Regions from separate parts of the Homo sapiens genome. Here region 1 is linked to region 2. The links come from fine-mapping of genetic effects on gene expression. A gene starts in region 2. The other region holds a variant in brackets. All regions are shown on one strand. Distances are from middle to middle.

Region 1 (5,253 bases), 64 kb after region 2:
AAGAATACTGCAAAAAATCAAATATAATTTGCATTCATACATCCCTTAATGATAAGGAAATATTCTGAGAAGTGAGTTGTTAGGCAGTTTCATCATTTGTGAACATATTTGAGTTTACTTACACAAATCTGGATGGTAACATCTTTTATACACCTAGGCTACATGGAACCTATAGTTCCAAGGCAACAAACATGTATAACATATTACTGTATTGAATACTGTAAGCAGTTGTGGCACAGTGGTAAATATTTGTGTATCTAAACTGATCTAAGCATATCATAGAAAAGGTACAGTAAAAATAGGGCATAAAAGATAAAAAATGGTACACCTGTATAGGGCACTTACCATGAATGGAGCTCGCAGGACTGGAAGTTGCTCTGGGTGATTCAGTGAGTGAATGTGAAGGCCTAGGACACGACTGTATACTTTACAAACACTGTACACTCAGGGGACACTACATTTATTTAAAAATATGTTTTTCTTTAATAGTAAATTAAGCTTAGCTTACTGTAGCTTTTTTTACTTTATAAACATTTAAATTTTTTTTAACTTTCTGACTCTCTTATAATAACACTTAGCTTAAAGCACAAACGTTGTACAGCTGTACGAAAATATTTTCTTTCTGTATAGTCTTATTCCATAAGCTTTTTTTAATATGTATTTTTTACTTTAAACTTTTTTTGGTGAAAAACAAAGACACAAATACGCACATTAGCCTAGGCCTACACAGGATCAGGATCATCAGAAGTGAAAAATAGTAAGTACATAAACCACTATCATAATTATCATTATAAAGTACTATACATAATTGCATATGCTATATTCTTTTATACAATTGGCAGCGCAGTAGATTTGTTTATACCAGTATCATCACAGATACATGAGTAATGCATGGTGCTATGACATTATGGCGACTATGACATCACCAGGCAATGGGAGTTTTTCAGCTCCATTATAATCTTATGGGACCACCATCACGTATGCGGTCCATGGTTGACCAAAACGTCATTATGCTGTGCATCACCGTAACTTTAAATTATTAAAGCAATGAAAATAGCACTGCATATATAGGACATTGATTTCTTTCATAATGGATGATTACTGGAAAACATGAAGAGTTAAAATAACTTGACTCTGTTACATGGCAAAAACATGACTTCAAGCAATTACCCGTTTTCTGGGATCTACTCATTAAAATATTAATTTTTTGAGACAGAGTCTCACTCTGTAGCCCAGGCTGGAGTGCAGTGGCACAGTCACCAGTCACTGCATCCACAACTTCCCGGGCTCAAGGGATCCTCTCACCCCAGCCTCCTGAGTAGCTGGGACTGCAGGCATGTGCCACCATGCCTGGCTAATTTTTTAGTTTTTTGTAAAGATGGGATCTCACTGTATTGCCCATGCTGGTCTTGAAATCCTGGGCTCAAGCAATCCCCACCTCAGCCTCCCAAAGTGTTGGGATTACAGGCATGAGCCACTGTGCCCAGCCAAAAAGAGAATTTTAACATGAACATTTGTTAACCAAAAAGGATATTGTATGAATACATTATAATATATTTGAAGATAAGAATTTTTTGATACTATTTTAGAAAGTTGACATGTAATTTTAGAATATTAATTCAAGATTCATGGACTGAATGTGATAAAAGATTGAAATAAAGTAATTATCCCTATTAATTGAGTACCTAATGTGGACCAGATACTGTATTAGGTATTACATGCATTCAGTTTAATATAATCTTTATAACAACTCTAGGAAGTGTATATTATCACCATTTTAAATTAGTATACAGTCATTCCTCCATGTGCATGGATTTTGCATTTACGGATTCAGTCAACTGTGGATTGGAATATTTGGGGGGGACAAATTCCACAAAGTTCCAAAAAGCAAAATTTGAATTTGCCACACACTGAGTACTGTGTTGAATCCATGCAAAGGAAGTGATGTGTAGGCATTGTATTAGGTATTACACATAATCTAGAGATAATTTAAAGTGTGTAAGAGGAAGTGTGTAGGCTATATGCAAAGGCTACCCTGTTTTGTATAAGGGACTTAAGCATTCATAGATTTTGGTATCCATGGGTGTTGGGAGGTCTGGAACCAATCCCTCACTGATACTTAGGGAAACTGTACTTCTCATTGCATTTACCAAAGAATACAATATAGTTTTGATTTCTC[C/ATTTCTCC]TTATATGTGTATATGTGTGTGTGTGTGTGTGTATGTCTGTGAGTCTTTTTCTTTTTTTTTTTCATTGATTACTTATTGAATACTGGCTGTGTAGCAAGCACTGGGGTAGCAGTGTGGGAATGCAATGCCTACAAAGCACTGATAGTTTAATGGGCGAGACAAACACCAGAAGCAGTTGTAGTAAAAAATACTTCTGAATTCTAGGACCTTAGAGTCCACAGTTATTATAAAGATCGTTTATTCCAGGCCAGGTGTGGAGGCTCACGCCTGTAATCCCAGCACTTTGGGAGGCTGAGGTGGGCAGATTGCTTCAACCCAGGAGTTCAAGACCAGCCTGGGCAACATGGCAAAACCCTGTCTCTACTAACAATACAAAAAATTAGCTGAGTGTGGTGGCAGGTGCCTGTAGCCTCACTTACTCAGGAAACTGAAGTGGGAGAATCACCTGAGCTCAGGAAGTTGAGGCTGCAGTGAGCCGTGAGGGAAGGGAGTGAGACCCTGCCTCAAAAAACAAAAATCATTTATTTCAAACTCTTTATGGAATTATGGTGGGAAAGGATTTTAGAGATCATCTAATTGAATTCCATTATGTAACAAAGAGATAAAGAGACTCAAAGATGTTAAGTAACTTGCCGAGTGTGCAAAATATTGCAGTGGGCTTTGGGGACACAAGGAAGCATACAAGGCATGCTGCCTCACCTCAGGGAAATCACAGTATAGAAGACAAGATGTGAAGTGGAAAGACTAACAGTTGCGCTGCAAGAACAGAGAAGATATACATTGTGGAGAGAGATCACTTTATTCTGCTTGATCATCAGAGGCTTCCTTGAGAATGCGTAGTAGGCATTTGGACTCCCAAAGACAAGAGCTATTGCCTAGAAATAATATTAATAGAGAAATTTCCCAGTAATTTTTTGGAGATAGTAATAGGAAGATTAGGTAGAACATTTGTGGCCTTAGGTATCTTAATACCAATTCAATGAATTTCACATTTTAACCTAAGAAGGTAAATATAATTTTACAGTTATTATGAAAACCTAATGAGAAAAAGATTTTCAATTACTGAGCCTAGGACTTGGAAGTTCTGGTCTGGATGTTTTATATAAACTATATTTACTCCCTAGGGTTTCTGTGAAGTAAGTAAGTTGGTAACACAGAGAGGTTAGACAACTTGCCTGAGGTGTGGAGAACAGTTATTGACTACAGGTATGCATGAAAGAGCCAATATTCAAATTGATTGCTTCAGTTTGTATGCTTATTCTAATCTAAGAATCCTTGATCAAAAGAGCTGGATCTCATTGAGGAAATTAATGTTCAGTTTTATAAAATATGAGGGATTGGAAGTGAAGATGGCACTTAAGAGTAGAGACAAAGCAGGAGTATTTAGGTACGAGTAAAAGGAAACAGGAATAGTGTAAATTATCCCACCAAAGTGTATGGTTAGTACTTCAATTTAAATCGTAATGTTCTGTTGTAAGAAAGTATCTGAGACATTCTTGACATATTTTATGACCATTTATTTTCCATTATGGTGAGGATTATATATTATATCTGAAATTCTTTAAAAACTGGAGAGCACAGAAGTAAAGGGTCATTGGGGAAGCAACAAAGAAACAAGCTGTTGTGGACTCTGTTCTGACCAGAAAGCAGGAGAACTTAATGATGTGGATGGAATATAAGAGGACCCTGGAGAGATAGTGATTATCATGTAACAGCCCGAGATAGCTAAAAAGGGGAATGCCAGGTGTAGTCTTTGTTTCCTGGATTTCAGAAAAGTGGATTTCTATGACAAACAGGTATGCATACAAAGCAAAAGCTGTAAAAGAGAAAATAAAAGTGTTCTTTAAAAAATGCCCCTACAGTGCATTGACAGAAATAATTGATAAGAATGAAAAGGAAGAACTTCTATGGTTGCACAAACTGTCTATTGCACATTTTAAAAGGCTGCATCCACATGACGCAAGTGGCATCAACACAAAAGAATAGTGGGAACCTGTAAAGTTAGTTTCAATAAGGCTAACAAAAACTGAGCTAAGCTGAGGTTAGCTTTCTTCTTTTGTGGGGTGTGTAATTTGAGTCTGAAAGGAATGTCTTTCTATCTGATTCACAAGATGGTCCACACAGGTTAGAAAACTTTGTTATACAAGGCTTTTTTTTCAATAGCTGTAGAGGATGAATATGCTGCTTTTTGATAATTCATATATTTGCTGTTTTTCTTCATTATAAACAGTACTCTGATGAATATCTTTGTAGATCTATACTTATTTCTCTGGGATAAATCCCTAGAGGTGGAATTGATGGGAAGTAAAATATGTGTAATTTTTAAGTTCTTGATACTTTTTGTGAAAATACCCCCTGGAAGGTGGTGCACCTACAGTCCCATGAGCAATATTTGAGGATGCGCTTCTCACCGTATCCTTGCCTACAGCAAATAATTTTGTCTTTCAAATCTTTAACAATGTGATTTGTAAAAATGGGAGAGAGGGAATATGTCAATGTGTTTTTATTTTACTTTTAAAAAATTTTAGTTTCTACTGAATTTGAATTTTTTTCATGTTGACCATTTATATTTCTTTAGCAAATAGCTTGCTTGTATCTTTTAAAGCTATGTCTTCTTGCTTTGTTTTGGGGTTTTTTATGTTTTTTTTTTTTGGTAAAGATTCTATAGAGATTATAACCTTTACTTTATATGTTACAAATGTTTGTCCCTCCCTGTCTACTGTTTTTTGTTTTTTTGAGACAGTCTTGTTCTGTCACCTAGGCTGGAGTGTAGTGGGGCGATCTCGACTCACTGCAACCTCTGCCTCTCAGGTTCTAGTGATCCTCATACCTTAGCCTCCCAAGTAGCTGGGATACAGGTGTGCACCACCACACCCGGCTAATTTTTGTATTTTTTGCAGAGATGGGGTTTCACCATATTGGCCAGGCTGGTCTCGAACTCCTGACCTCAGGTGATCTGCCTGCCTTGACCTCCCAAAGTGCTGGGATTATAGGCGTGAGCCACTGTGCCTGGTTGCTGTTTGTTTATGTTTTAATTTTGTTTATATTTTTCCTCCTTTGCTTATATATTTTA
Region 2 (5,253 bases):
GCTGGTCTGGAACTCTTGACCTCAGGTGATCCACCCGCCTCAGCGTCCCAAAGTGCTGGGATTACAGGCGTGAGCCACGGTGCCCTGCCCACACCTTACAGAGTCCTGAGGGGAGTGGAACAATCCTAACTTTTTCTGAAGAAGTCAGTGAAGGCTTTGCCATTGAGGCTCTACTGTTTGAGATGCAGTAGATGCTGTGCAATATTTAGAGTTTTAAAGGAGTGCGTTATTGACGACCTAAGGGCAAATTATATATTATCTGACAGAAGTAACGTTTTCTTATTCATTGTTCCTGTAGTACTTTGCTTATGTGGTCTATAACTCATTCACTTCATACCTCAGTGAGTTGTAGTTAAGCTTGTAATTGACAATTACAGTGGAGTGGAAGCTGCCATTTGTATTTTAATAACACAATTTTTTTGGGGGGGTGCAGAGTCTCACTCTGTCTCCAGGCTGGAGTGCAGTGGCACAATCTTAGCTCACTGCAACCTCTGCCTCCCGGGTTCAAGCGATTCTCCTGCCTCAGCCTCCCGAGTAGCTAGGACTATAGGCACGCGCCACCATGCCTAGCTAATTTTTGTATTTTTAGTAGACAGGGAGTTTCACCATGTTGGCCAGAATGGTCTTGATCTCTTGACCTCATGATCCGCCTGCTTCAGCCTCCCAAAGTGTTGGGATCACAGGAGTCAGCCACCGCGCCCGGCCAATAACACAATATTTTTAAGCACCTACTATGATCTGTGATAAATCCTCTTATACGGATACATTATTCACAGCTCGCGAGTTAGTGTCTCTATCTCCTTTTTACAAAGAAACAGGCTGCAAAATAAAAATTACCTAAGGGTGTAAAATAATAAAAACACTTAAGCCATGTAACATTAGCAACTATCTCTATTTTTCTGTAAACTTTTATTTTGGAGCCACATTAAACAACTATTTTTGTAGTCAAACACATTCAAATGCATGAATAAATTACGTTCCAAGCCACTTACAAATATAAACTAAATTTGGATTACTCTTATTTCTTTCTATTGTGCATAGCAAAAAGCTGAGGAAGCTTTTAATTATCTCTAGAACTCAACATTTGCCTTTGATGTGAAGTATCATCATTTCAAAAACACAAGCTAAAACTGAAGTGGTGTTCAGTATAATGAGGTTGGTTTCTTATATAGCATTATTAACTTTATGTTCTGAGAAATGAGGACATTTAATAGCAGGTTATAGATTCATGCATCAACAACATTCAGCATTACCACCTAAGGCCAGTGCTATGTCTAAAAAGCTATATTTAATACTCGCAATGTTACACACAATTATGTCTTCAATGAATGTTCAGTGAATCCTTCTTTATGATGCTGATAAATATCGTCTATATAGCTAAAATCGTTTACATAGCTAAGGGCAAATCGCTGTTTACTAGGGATAGTAATGCCGAACGGAGTGAATACATGAAGTCGTAAATTATATGAATGCAGGGTGACCTAATATAGCCAGGGTCTCAATTTAATAATATATACCCGTTTAAAAATAGCCTTATTTCCTTCTCTAAAGCTTGGACTCTTTTTTTTTTTGAGATAAGGTCTCACTCACTTTGTCGCCCGGGCTGGAATGGAGAGGCCCGATCTCAGCTCACTGCAGCCTCGACCGCCTGGGCTCAGGGGATCCTCCCACCTCAGCCTCTTCAGTAGCTGGGACTACAGGTCTGCACCACAGGGCCGGCTAGTGTTTGTATTTTTTGTAGAGACGGAGCCTCGCTATGTTGCTCAGGCTGGTCTCGAACACCTGAGTTCAAGCGATCCGCCCTCCTAGGCTTCCCAAAGTGCTGGGATTACAGGAAGGAGCCACCGCACCGGCCTGGGCTAAATCTGATTCCAAGTTTACACAAGTTTGTTGAATGCCCACTGTGTGCTTAATGAAAGATCAAAGTTTGATAAAACAAGGTCCCTGCTCTTACTGAGCGCATAGCTTTCTCAGATTATCAGGAACCAAATTTGGAAAATAATCCAGAACGCTGGCGTAGGTAGCTCAAGGTTCCCCGCTTGCAACATTTAGTCCAAACCAGTCAATTCTAGGCGGCGGATTTCCCCATCCCCCTCCGTCGCCCAACCTTTGGGTGGGGCCACTCCCAAACGCTCCCTCCCCTCGTCCCGCCATGCACAGCAGTGCGCATGCGCCCTCAGGGAGGCGGACAGTGACCCTGAGGCATTGCCGTCGCGCGGTGCACAGCTAAGACGTCGCGCTTGCGCAGGCGCTCGGCGCAGAGGCCTGCGGGAAGCCAAGATGGCGCATAGGGGTTCTCCAGGCTGCAGTTGGCGCCTTATCAGTATCTAAGCGGAGTGTTTTGGAAGGAGTTAAGGGGCTGTGGCAAACGCCCTCTCCGCCGTCATGGCCCGGCATCGGAATGTTCGAGGCTATAACTACGATGAAGGTAGGTGGCAGGGTCATGCCGGGACGTTCTTTTCCCGGCTACAGCTGGGATCCTAGCCCGTTGGCATCCACTTCAATCTGTGAGTTTCTCGTCAGTGTTGCCCTGTCGGGATTGGGAGAGCCCCAGTTGGGGAATATAACAGGCCTTCTAGTGCTTTCAAATGCCGTCGTTTTTAAGTCATGATTTCTGCCCTCTGGGGTTGATTTTATTTGGGGAGGGGGAGGTGCTGCATAGCGTCATATGGGTAGGATATTGGTGAGGTTGAGATCCGGTGATATTTAGGCACGTAAGCATTATCACCTCTTCCATTGTTTCCTCCCATGTTGGGCACTAACGTGCCTGCTTCTAGCTCCTCTCTCCCAGATCCCCTTTGAGAAATGTCCATGAAACGTTGCTTATTTGTAAAACACAGATTGACTTAATACATTCAACGGACGTGTACCTGTGTTAGATTTACATGGTAAACCTTTTGTGTATGTCCATACATACCTAGTGCAGAATCAGTTTGCGCTAATTTATTTTTCAACGAATTTCAAAGTGGAAACTTAGGAGACGGTAGAAAAGACACATGTTAAAAAGGCCCAAAGAATGAGTCGATCAGATGGATCTTGAAGTTTATACTTAGTTCTTGGCTGGTAATGCTTGATATAAATGTATTTTGAAATGTAAATAAACGGCAGTACTAGAGGAAAGAGTGTATAGGAAAGGACTTTTTGATATTAAAAAATGAAATAAAAATGTCTGTATGAATGTTCTGTAGGAGTTAACAGGAGTTAGAATTATTTTTAGGAGGAGCACATCCCTCTTCATGCAGTAGATAACTATAGGCATCACCAAGCATCACATAAACTAAAAATATAAACAAAAATGAACTAATGCAGGAGAAGAATAAAGAACTATGCTTTACGAAGTGCAGAACATGTAGTGCTTAATATGTTGGTGATTGTCATTGGCACCCCAGTAGATTATTATAGAACATCAGTATGCTTTAACTAGAGTGAGGGCAGCTAACACCCTGTTCTCCATTTGGAACCTGTGACCTCAGTCCGTCTAGAACATGTGAATTTTCTGGTGGTTACTTTAGAATGGAGGCCCTTTTAAATAAATATTGCAGTGGATGGTATTGCATGTGGACCATTGTCACCTAAGAAATGACTTTAGATTGAGAGAGATTTTTGCAAATATAAAGTACATGAATAGGCCTATTTATTATTCATTCATTTCTTTAATAGTTGTTTATCATTTCCTCAACCACCATTAAGTTAGTGCTTAGAGTACTGTTCTAAGCTTTGAGGACTGAAAGTAAGATATTTGAGGGTGGTCTAAAAGGAGAAGATTATACGAGTTACAGATTATTAGAGTATGAAAAATGCTACAAAAGGTACTGAGAAAACGCTATGGGAGGGATACACAGATGAGAACACTTAATTCAGAATGGATTGGGGGGAATTTAAGCAGGATTTCTACGTTAAGGAATGCTTCATGGAGGAGAGGTGGTTGGCCTCAGGGAGCACCTTGGCTTCTTGAGGTTAGGTTGTCATGTTGTCATGCTTCTTTGAAACAATTGGTGACATCATAACCAAGCTGTTCCTGTAACATTAAGGAGGTTCATCCCCTTTTCTTGTTTATAAAAGTTGTACTCATTAAGGTCCAGTTTATTTCTCTTCTTCCCAGTTAGGCTTTCTCTTGAATTCTCAGAATAATAATTTAAAAATTCTGTTAAGAAATATAACCTCATTAGAGAGAGTTTGTGTTCTAAAACCTACTGGTTCCGCTACTTAACTCCCACTTTGTTTTTCTCTGTAATTTATGTAATACTTTACATGACTGCCTCAGTCACTGATTTAAAAGTCTCAGGAAGGCAAAATCCATACTTTAAGTAGCTGGCACAATGTTCTTTACATGTGGTAAATATTTCATAATTTTGTTGATTGAGGAAACAAACTATGAAGATTGCAGGAAAGAATTCTCTTCATCTTTATATGTTGTGGCACTTTAGGGTCAACTTCAGCATTGACAAACTGACCTAGTAAAAAAGAGTTTTTTTTCTTTTTTTTTTTTTTTTAAGAGACAGGATCGCACTTTGTTGGTTGGCCAAGCTGGAGTGCGAGTGCAGTGGCATGATCATAGCTCTCTGTAACCTCCAACTCCTGGGCTCAAGCAATCCTCGTGCCTCAGCCTCCCGAGTAGCTAGGTCTACAGGCATGTGCCCCCATGCCCGGTTAATTTTTTATTTTAGTAGAGACAGCATCCGGCTGTGTTGCCCAAGCGAGATCCTCCCTCCTCGGCTTCCCAAAGTACTGGAATTACAGGTGTGAGCCACGATGCCTGGCCTATTGTTGTCTTCAATATCTAAAAATACTTTGTTTGTGAATGGCCCCTTGTTTATTTGCAAATAAATTTTTATTAACTTGGGATTGTGATCTAATAATTTATTTAATCATATATGTTTTTGCCCAATAGTAGCATTTATCTAATTTTTCTTTGCTGTAAGCATTTGGTCTCAGCCTTTGAGCATGCTGTTCCTGCTGCATGAATACCCTCAGAAACTAGCTAACTCTATCCTTTGGAATTGGTTTGGATATTATATTAATGGGGATCTTTCCCTAGCTGCCCCACTCCCGGTTCTAGTTTTGTCATTCATGTGTGTGTTCCCAAATTGCTCTGTGTTTCTCACATCAGGCACTTGTCACATGGTTTTGTAATTGCCCATTATCTTGTGTGTATTCCTTGTCAGATTTTAGGTGCAGTGATAACTGGAAATGTGTTCACTGTTATACCACAGTTGTCTCAACTACTCCCTGGCATGGTGTTAGTGTTTGTCA

The links. PIP is the estimated chance that this variant, and not a neighbour inherited with it, causes the effect.
Region 1: its variant is the best candidate, but not a certain one, in a credible set for the expression of HBS1L in whole blood (INTERVAL, PIP 0.85).

The regions. Positions count from the first base shown.
Region 1 is chr6:134,988,024-134,993,276 of GRCh38, reverse strand. All of the region lies in intron 8 of HBS1L (HBS1 like translational GTPase), which reads left to right. Among named protein-coding and RNA genes, the nearest start is that of MIR3662, 11 kb to the right of the region's middle. The variant C/ATTTCTCC (reference allele first, on the strand shown) is at 2,180.
Region 2 is chr6:135,051,824-135,057,076 of GRCh38, reverse strand. It overlaps HBS1L (HBS1 like translational GTPase), which reads left to right and starts at 2,255. Exons shown (of 18, transcript NM_006620.4): 1 at 2,255-2,428. The coding sequence starts at 2,386. LOC124901405 (a long non-coding RNA gene) reads right to left here and starts at 2,184. Exons shown (of 2, transcript XR_007059775.1): 1 at 1,591-2,184. RefSeq lists an enhancer at 2,047-2,096.